Linked DNA regions of Homo sapiens. The protein of the gene in region 2 purifies or fractionates together with the protein of the main gene of each other region. This does not show direct contact. Each region holds a gene or a part of one and is shown on either strand. Other genes may lie near its edges.

Region 1 (3,500 bases), on a different chromosome or scaffold from region 2:
CTGGATCCCCAGTGAGTTAACTGAATTATCAGACTTCTAACTAGTTTAAGTCCCAGGCTGAAGCTAACAACATTACTTTTTGCGCTCTCTGTAGATATTCCTAGTAAAATGACCCAGAGAAAACTGGGTTTGGGGTGCCTTCCCGGGGTAACAAAAAAGAACATTCTTTGGTAAATGAGATATCTCCACCTAGCAAACAATCCCCAGTGAGGGCTGCTCGGCTTTTTGCCCATCACGACCTCCCACCTTTCATGAAGATTGGATGCTGAGATGATGATCAAGGCTGGAGAACCATGCTTCATGTGGTGGAGTACCTGTAGGTGGATTCATACCAAATCCACTATCAGTGCTTGGCTGTTTCAAAATAAACACCATTTTACACTCTTTAATTAACTTCACCCAGAGAGCTCAGAAGGTTTTGATGCTTTTTATACATTTTTTTTGTATGTTAAGACAGGGTCTCCCTGTATCACCCAGGCTGGAGTGGAGTGCAGTAGTGCAGTCATAGCTCACTGTAACCTTGAACTCCTGGGCTCAAGCAATCCTCCCACCTCAGCCTCCTGAGTAACTAGGACTACAGGCATGTACCACCACACTCAGTTAATATTTTAATATTTTGTGGAGATGGGGTCTCGCTGTGTGTCCAGGCTGGTCACTGACTCCTGGCCTCAAGCAATCCTTCCGCCCCAGCCTCCCATGTAGCTGAGATTACAGGCATGAGCGACCACACCCCACTGTTTTTTTAAATGCTATTCCACTGTTACGGATTACACAGAAATTCCTGATACACTCTTACTACCCCCACCCCGTTTTTGTCTTTCAGGTATAGGGCTCAAGGAATAAGCGCAAATAAATTTGTGGACTCCACGTTCTATCTTCTTTTGGACTTGATCACCTTTTTTGACGAGTATCATAGTGGTCATATTGATAGAGCTTTTGATGTAAGTTTCAGGAAAGGTGTTTGAAGTGCAGGTTAATGTACACCCTCGAAAATTCAAAACACTTCATGGAATTTACTTAAAACAAAGGAGCTGTTGCCAGTATGTTTGTTGTATAAAGAAAGACAAGTACAATCCTGGGACTTAAAAGGAGTTTCCTGTGTGGCTTTTTTTTTTTTTTTTTTTTTTTTTTTGCCTATTCCTTTCCCCTTTAATCTGAAAACAGAGAAGTTTCTCAAAGTAATTTGCAATCTCAGAATTTTAAAAATTGTGTCAGGAAATGATGATAAGAATTAAGTTAGCTAGTTAGAATCAAAGCCTTTGTGTGTACAAGGAGGAATGGCGTTTTCTATGAAGAAGCCCTTTGGAGTATGTGAGGTGCTGACTTTACATGTAGAGAGATGAAATGACTGTGATGGTTGTGTTACATGGGGCCGGTGGTTGTTTTAAACAGATCATTGAGCGCTTGAAGCTGGTGCCCCTGAATCAGGAAAGTGTGGAAGAGAGAGTGGCTGCCTTCAGAAATTTCAGTGATGAAGTAAGTTCCTTCTTCCTGAGTTGTGGAATTCCTTTTTCCCCACTTCCACCAAAAGCTTTTTCTTTTCCTGTACCTAACAGCTTTAAGAATTCTAGTTACAGTAACTATCCAGACTGAGTTTTCCAGAGTGGTTCCCTTTCAGATACCTTGGCCTGGCTTTTCTGTGAGTGCATACATCCCCATCAGATTATTGTCTGAATTCCTAATTGAGAAAATACAGTCACTTCAGTGATTGACATGTTCTTGGGAGAAACAGGTTTCTGGTTGATCTGTGAAGTCTGGTTTAATTCTTCTATTATCCGCTTGTGCTAGAGGGTATTTTAGTGCTTAACTCTGATCATCTTTAAGTAGTTCCATTGGGTACGTGAAACACATCATGATTCACTGCCACCTTTGCCCTCCCTTATCTGTTTTGGGATTTTTTTGTTTTTGAAACGGAGGAGTCTCACTCTGTCACCCAGGCTGGAGTGCAGTGGTGTGATCTTGGCTCACTGCAAGCTCTACCTCCCGGGTTCACACCATTCTCCTGCCTCAGCCTCACGAGTAGCTGGGACTACAGGTGCCCGCCAACACGCCCAGCTAATTTTTTGTATATTTAGTAGAGATGGGGTTTCACCGTGTTAGCCAGGATGGTCTCGATCTTCTGACCTCGTGATCTGCCCGCCTCGGCCTCCCAAAATGCTGGGATTACAGGCGTGAGCCACCGTGCCCAGCCAATCCATTTTGTCTAAAGACGCAAGTGCAGTGACCGCGGAGTAAGCTATCACCCCATAAGCCCCAGAGCCACTGTCTGTTGGGTTTCTAGCATATTGCCAGCATCTAGCCTAGGGTGCTCAGCTGGGCTGCATACTGGCATCTCTAGAAAAGTTTCTAAAAACCCTCATGCCTACACCCCAGAGATTCTGTTTTCCCTGATTGCTGCAGCCCAGACCTCCCCCAGTCATTCCAGTGTGTGGCCCAGGTAAATTCTTCTCTAGAACTATAAACACTCAACTCAGCTGTCGACACTATAGACTCTAGAACCAGCTGCCTGGCTCTGGGATGTCACTAGTGGTCTTTCAGTTTACAATTCTTCCTCATTGAGCAGATGCCTTTTATAAAATGTCTCCAGCCAGGTGCGGTGGCTCACACCTATAATCCCAACATTTTGGGAGGCTGAGGCGGACTGATCACCTGAGGTCAGGAGTTCGAGACCAGCCTGGCCAACATGGTAAAATCCCATCTCTACTAAAAAATACAAAAATTAGCCGGGCGTGGTGACGCATACCTGTAGTCCCAGCTATTCCAGAGGCTGAGGCACGAGAATCGCTTGAACCCGGGAAGCAAAGGTTGCAGTGAGCCGAGATTGCGCCACTTCACTCCAGCCTGGGCGATAGAGGGAGACTTTGTCTCAAAAAAAAAAAAAAAAAGTTTCTATTTTAGAGAAAGAAGTAAGGCCAGTTCTGCACATGAAGAGGGATGTTGACTGCTGTGGTACACACAGTTCAGAAGGTCTTGCCCCTTGCTGACCTTCCCTTTATACCTGCTGTGGCTTCTACCCTTAGCCACTTGCTCCTTTGTTATTTCTGGCCTTTCCTTGAATGCATCCTTCATTGCATCAGGGATTAAAGTGGTACACGAGGGCCTGGCCTTATAGACACTCCCAAGGACTCTGGTAGGGTCATGCAGATCTAGTGGAAACAGCCCGGTGAGTTTGAGAGAGTGAGGAGTGGTAGGGACTGTGGAGAAGTAGCGTGTGCACCTGTACCTCCTGACATTCAAGTTCAAATTATTTAATGGCAGCCACTCTGCTGGCCAGTCTAAGCCTAATGCTAACCAGATGTCAGCATGCTTTTGGCTCACTGCCCCTGACTAAGGGAAAAACAGCATAAAGGAGCAGGAACAGTAACCACCTGACCTGAGCAGCATTGCTTGGGTTTTTTTCTCACACTTGATGTTTCAGTGCCATCAGCTCCTTTTGGGTGACTGTGTGGCTCTCCACCTGGCAATGGTGAGGAGTGGTGCAACCAGGCCTGCCTGGAGCA
Region 2 (3,500 bases):
CATGTCTATGAGCAAGAATAAATGAGAAACTGCTGACTTGCTTCTGGGAAGGTGGTAACAAAGGAATGGTGTAGGAAGGAGAGCTCTTCTGTGTGAACCCATCTGTACTTACTACTCTTAATACATTGTAAGTTAAAATTATATTTTACTAGCTTAATTTTACAGTGCTGGTTAAAGATGTCTTTAAGTTTCCATTACTACTTGTTTCTGCCATCTACCTCTCTCATCTGTTGATACAGTTTTGCCATTGTTAGGACCAGCATCCCTAGTAGATTTTTTATTTTGTTTTGAGACTTTCTTTCTTACCATTTGCCTGTAAATAATTTCCTAACATAAAAATGGAAAAATGGCATTTGAATTATTTTATTACTTATTTTTGTGATTAATATTTTCATTGATTTGGATGGAGCATAGTGCATTCCCAGGGGATGGGATATGTGTCCAGTCTAAAACCTCCACTTATCCAAGTTCCTGTTTTTAGCTGAAACTGTTACACCTTGTCTTAGTTTTGAGTTTCCTAAAAGGATAACTTGAGTCAAAGTCTTGGGTGCAGGTTCTTTGAAAGATTATCCTAGGAAGCAGAAATGCCTGAAGAGAGTAAGATAAGGAGAAAAACCAGTAAAGGAAGTGTTATTATACTTATTGCTGTGGACAGCTGGGGCTCATCCTACTGGGGATCCTCCGAAGAACTGGTTAAAGTGTATCTCCTGCTTATCCTCCTAAAACATTCAGGCTGGGCATTCGTCTACCAACTCTCCCCTTTGGTTCAAGGATGCCCACAAGAAACTTTTAACTCTTTTATGCTTCTGAGCTGTTCCTGCTTGTGGTCCGAGCACCCTTTAATCCCTTTGGGGGGAACCCTGAGAAAGAAAGGTAGAGAGGCCCAAAGTGAACACTTGAGGCCAGATACTGGCAACCCTCACAGATTGTGTACTGGGAAATCAATGGGTCAGTGATGGGAGGTTGGGGAGCAGTAATATGTAAGAGATGGGCAGAGAATGCATTTAGGCAGGATACTTAGAAGGAATAGAAAGACAAAATGAGAAGCAGGAGAGAATAGAAACTAAGGAAGCAAATAGTTTTAGGAACCAGTGAATGGTTTGTTGTGATACTGTGCAGAGGTTCAGAAGATAAGGATAGGAAATCATGTATTTTGTAACATAGATTGCAAATGGGGCTCTGGCAAAAGTAGTTTAATGTAGCAGTGGGAGAGGAAGTGTAGATGAAAAACCACTGGCCAGTAAGGATTTGAAATGGTGTAGGCCACTGTTTTAAGAAATGTGGGTGGATCACCTAAGGTCAGGAGTTTGAGACCAGCCTGGCCAACATGGCAAAACCCCATCTCTACTAAAAATAAAAAACTAGAGCCGGGTGTGGTGGCTCACGCCTGTAATCCCAGCACTTTGGGAGGCTGAGGTAGGCAGATCATCTGAGTTCAGGAGTTCGAGACCAGCCTGACCAACATGACGAAACCCTGTCTCTACTAAAAATACAAAAATTAGTCGGGTGTGGTGGTGGGCGCCTGTAATCCCAGCTACTTGGGAGGCTGAGGCAGGAGAATCATTTGAACCTGGAGGTTAGAGCATGCGGTGAGCCAAGATCTGGCCACTGCACTCCAGCCTGGGCTACAGAGTGAGACTCTGTCTCCAAACAAACAAACAAACAAACACCGGCCAGGCATGGTGGCTCACGCCTATAATCCCAGCACTTTGGGACGCCAAGGCAGGTGGTTCACCTGAGGTCGAGAGTTCAAGACCAGCCTGACCAGCATGGAGAAACCCCATCTCTACTAAAAATACAAAATTAGTGGGGCATGGTGGCGCATGGGTGTAATCTCAGCTACTTGGGAGGCTGAGGCAGGAGAATTGCTTGAACCCGGGAGGCAGAGGTTGCAGTGAGCTGAGATCTCACCATTGCACTCCAGCCTAAGCAACAAGAGCGAAACTCCGTCTCAAAAAAATAAATAAACAAGTAACAAAAACACACACACACACAGACACACACAAAAACTAGCCGGGCTTTGGTGGAATGTGCCCGTAAACCCAGCTACTTGGGAGGCTGAGGCAGGAGAATCCTTTGAACCCGGGAGGTTGGAGGTTCTGGTGAGCCGAGATCGGGCCACTGCACTCCAGCCTGGGCAACAGAGTGAGATGCTATCTCAAAAAAAGAAAAACTAGCCAGGTGTGGTGGTGCATGCCTGTAATCCCAGCTAACTCGGGAGGCTGAGGCAGGAGAATCGCTTGAACCCAGGAGGCAGTGGTTGCAGTGAGCCGAGATCGTGCCACTGCACTCCTGCCTGGGCGACAAGAGCGAAACTCCGTCTCAAAAAAGAAATTTGGCCAGCCTGGGCAACATAGGGAGACCGCTACAGAAAATAAAAAATCAAAAAAAAAATAGCTGGGAATGGTAGTGTGCGCCTGTAGTCCCAGCTGCTCAGGAGGCTGAGGTGGGAGGATTGCTTGAGCCTGAGAGGTTAAGGGTGCAGTGAGCTGTGATTGTGCCACTGCACTCCAGTCTGGGCAGCAGAGTGAGACTGTGTCTCAAAACAAGAAATTTGGCTAAGAGAAAAAGTAAGAGACAAGGCAGCAGCTAGAAGGAGATGTTGGAGTCAAAAAGGAAGGTTTTTATTTTTTAGGAGTGGGAGAGGCTTGAGCATATTTGTAGGCTGGGAATAATGACTCATTTATAATAAAAAGTCAGTGGAGAGGGAGATGTTTATGATGTAGGAGTAAACAATAACAATTCCTGGGGCAAGGCTTGGTGGGAGATGAGGACAAGAGTACAAGTGTAGGAGTTTGGTTTTGGGCAGGAGAAAGGGAATCTTGTAAGTATGCAAATATAATACATTTGTAGTCTTGGAGATTGTAAAGAAATTTAAATACTTCTTACTAACAACTTTATTTTTAGTAGAATAGGTGATGTTTTCAGTCACTGAGAAGAAGCTAGTAATTAAATACTTACTGAGTGTTTTTTTCCCACCATATGGAGGAGGTATATTTGGGTATCAGACAAGAGGAAATAAAGGGCCCAGAATGGTTGTGCTAAGGAATTTGGATTTTATTTGTAGAATATGGAAAGGTATTGAATATTTTGGAGTAGCAGATCTGATATGATCAGAGTAATATTCTCAGATTTTGTGTTGCAAGATGTATTGCAATGGAAAAGAAATTAGAGTTACTAGGAAGATAAGATAGTCTGAGGTTTCTAGGTACTGGGTTTTAAGTACTTTGCCCTTAACAGGTAATGGAAAGGCAAATATTGTGCTTATAGTGACAGAGATTGTGAAATAGCCATTATATTATATAATAGTACTAGGACTTGGCAACAGGACCTAGTAGGCGAAGGGAAGTGAGAAGAAGCTAGAGATTTCTAGCCAGGGTAGCAATTGGAGCTGTGGTTTTATTGACAGAAACTGGTAAATTAGGAAGGAGAGTGAATTTTGAAAGGAAAAATAATTGTACTTTGGAGGGTTTGTTTTTGAAGTGGTGGCAAGGCTCTAT

Evidence for each region. The genes of interacting proteins can lie anywhere in the genome.
Region 1: the proteins of VIRMA (region 2) and NUP93 purify together in Homo sapiens (affinity purification with mass spectrometry; 2 studies listed by BioGRID, with this or other methods). This does not show direct contact.

Annotation. Positions count from the first base shown.
Region 1 is NC_000016.10:56,838,129-56,841,628, forward strand, and holds part of NUP93 (nuclear pore complex protein Nup93), read left to right. Parts: intron 1-823; coding exon 824-941; intron 942-1,392; coding exon 1,393-1,476; intron 1,477-3,500. UniProt on the Homo sapiens protein: Plays a role in the nuclear pore complex (NPC) assembly and/or maintenance. May anchor nucleoporins, but not NUP153 and TPR, to the NPC. During renal development, regulates podocyte migration and proliferation through SMAD4 signaling.
Region 2 is NC_000008.11:94,522,470-94,525,969, reverse strand, and holds part of VIRMA (protein virilizer homolog), read left to right. Parts: intron 1-3,500. UniProt on the Homo sapiens protein: Associated component of the WMM complex, a complex that mediates N6-methyladenosine (m6A) methylation of RNAs, a modification that plays a role in the efficiency of mRNA splicing and RNA processing.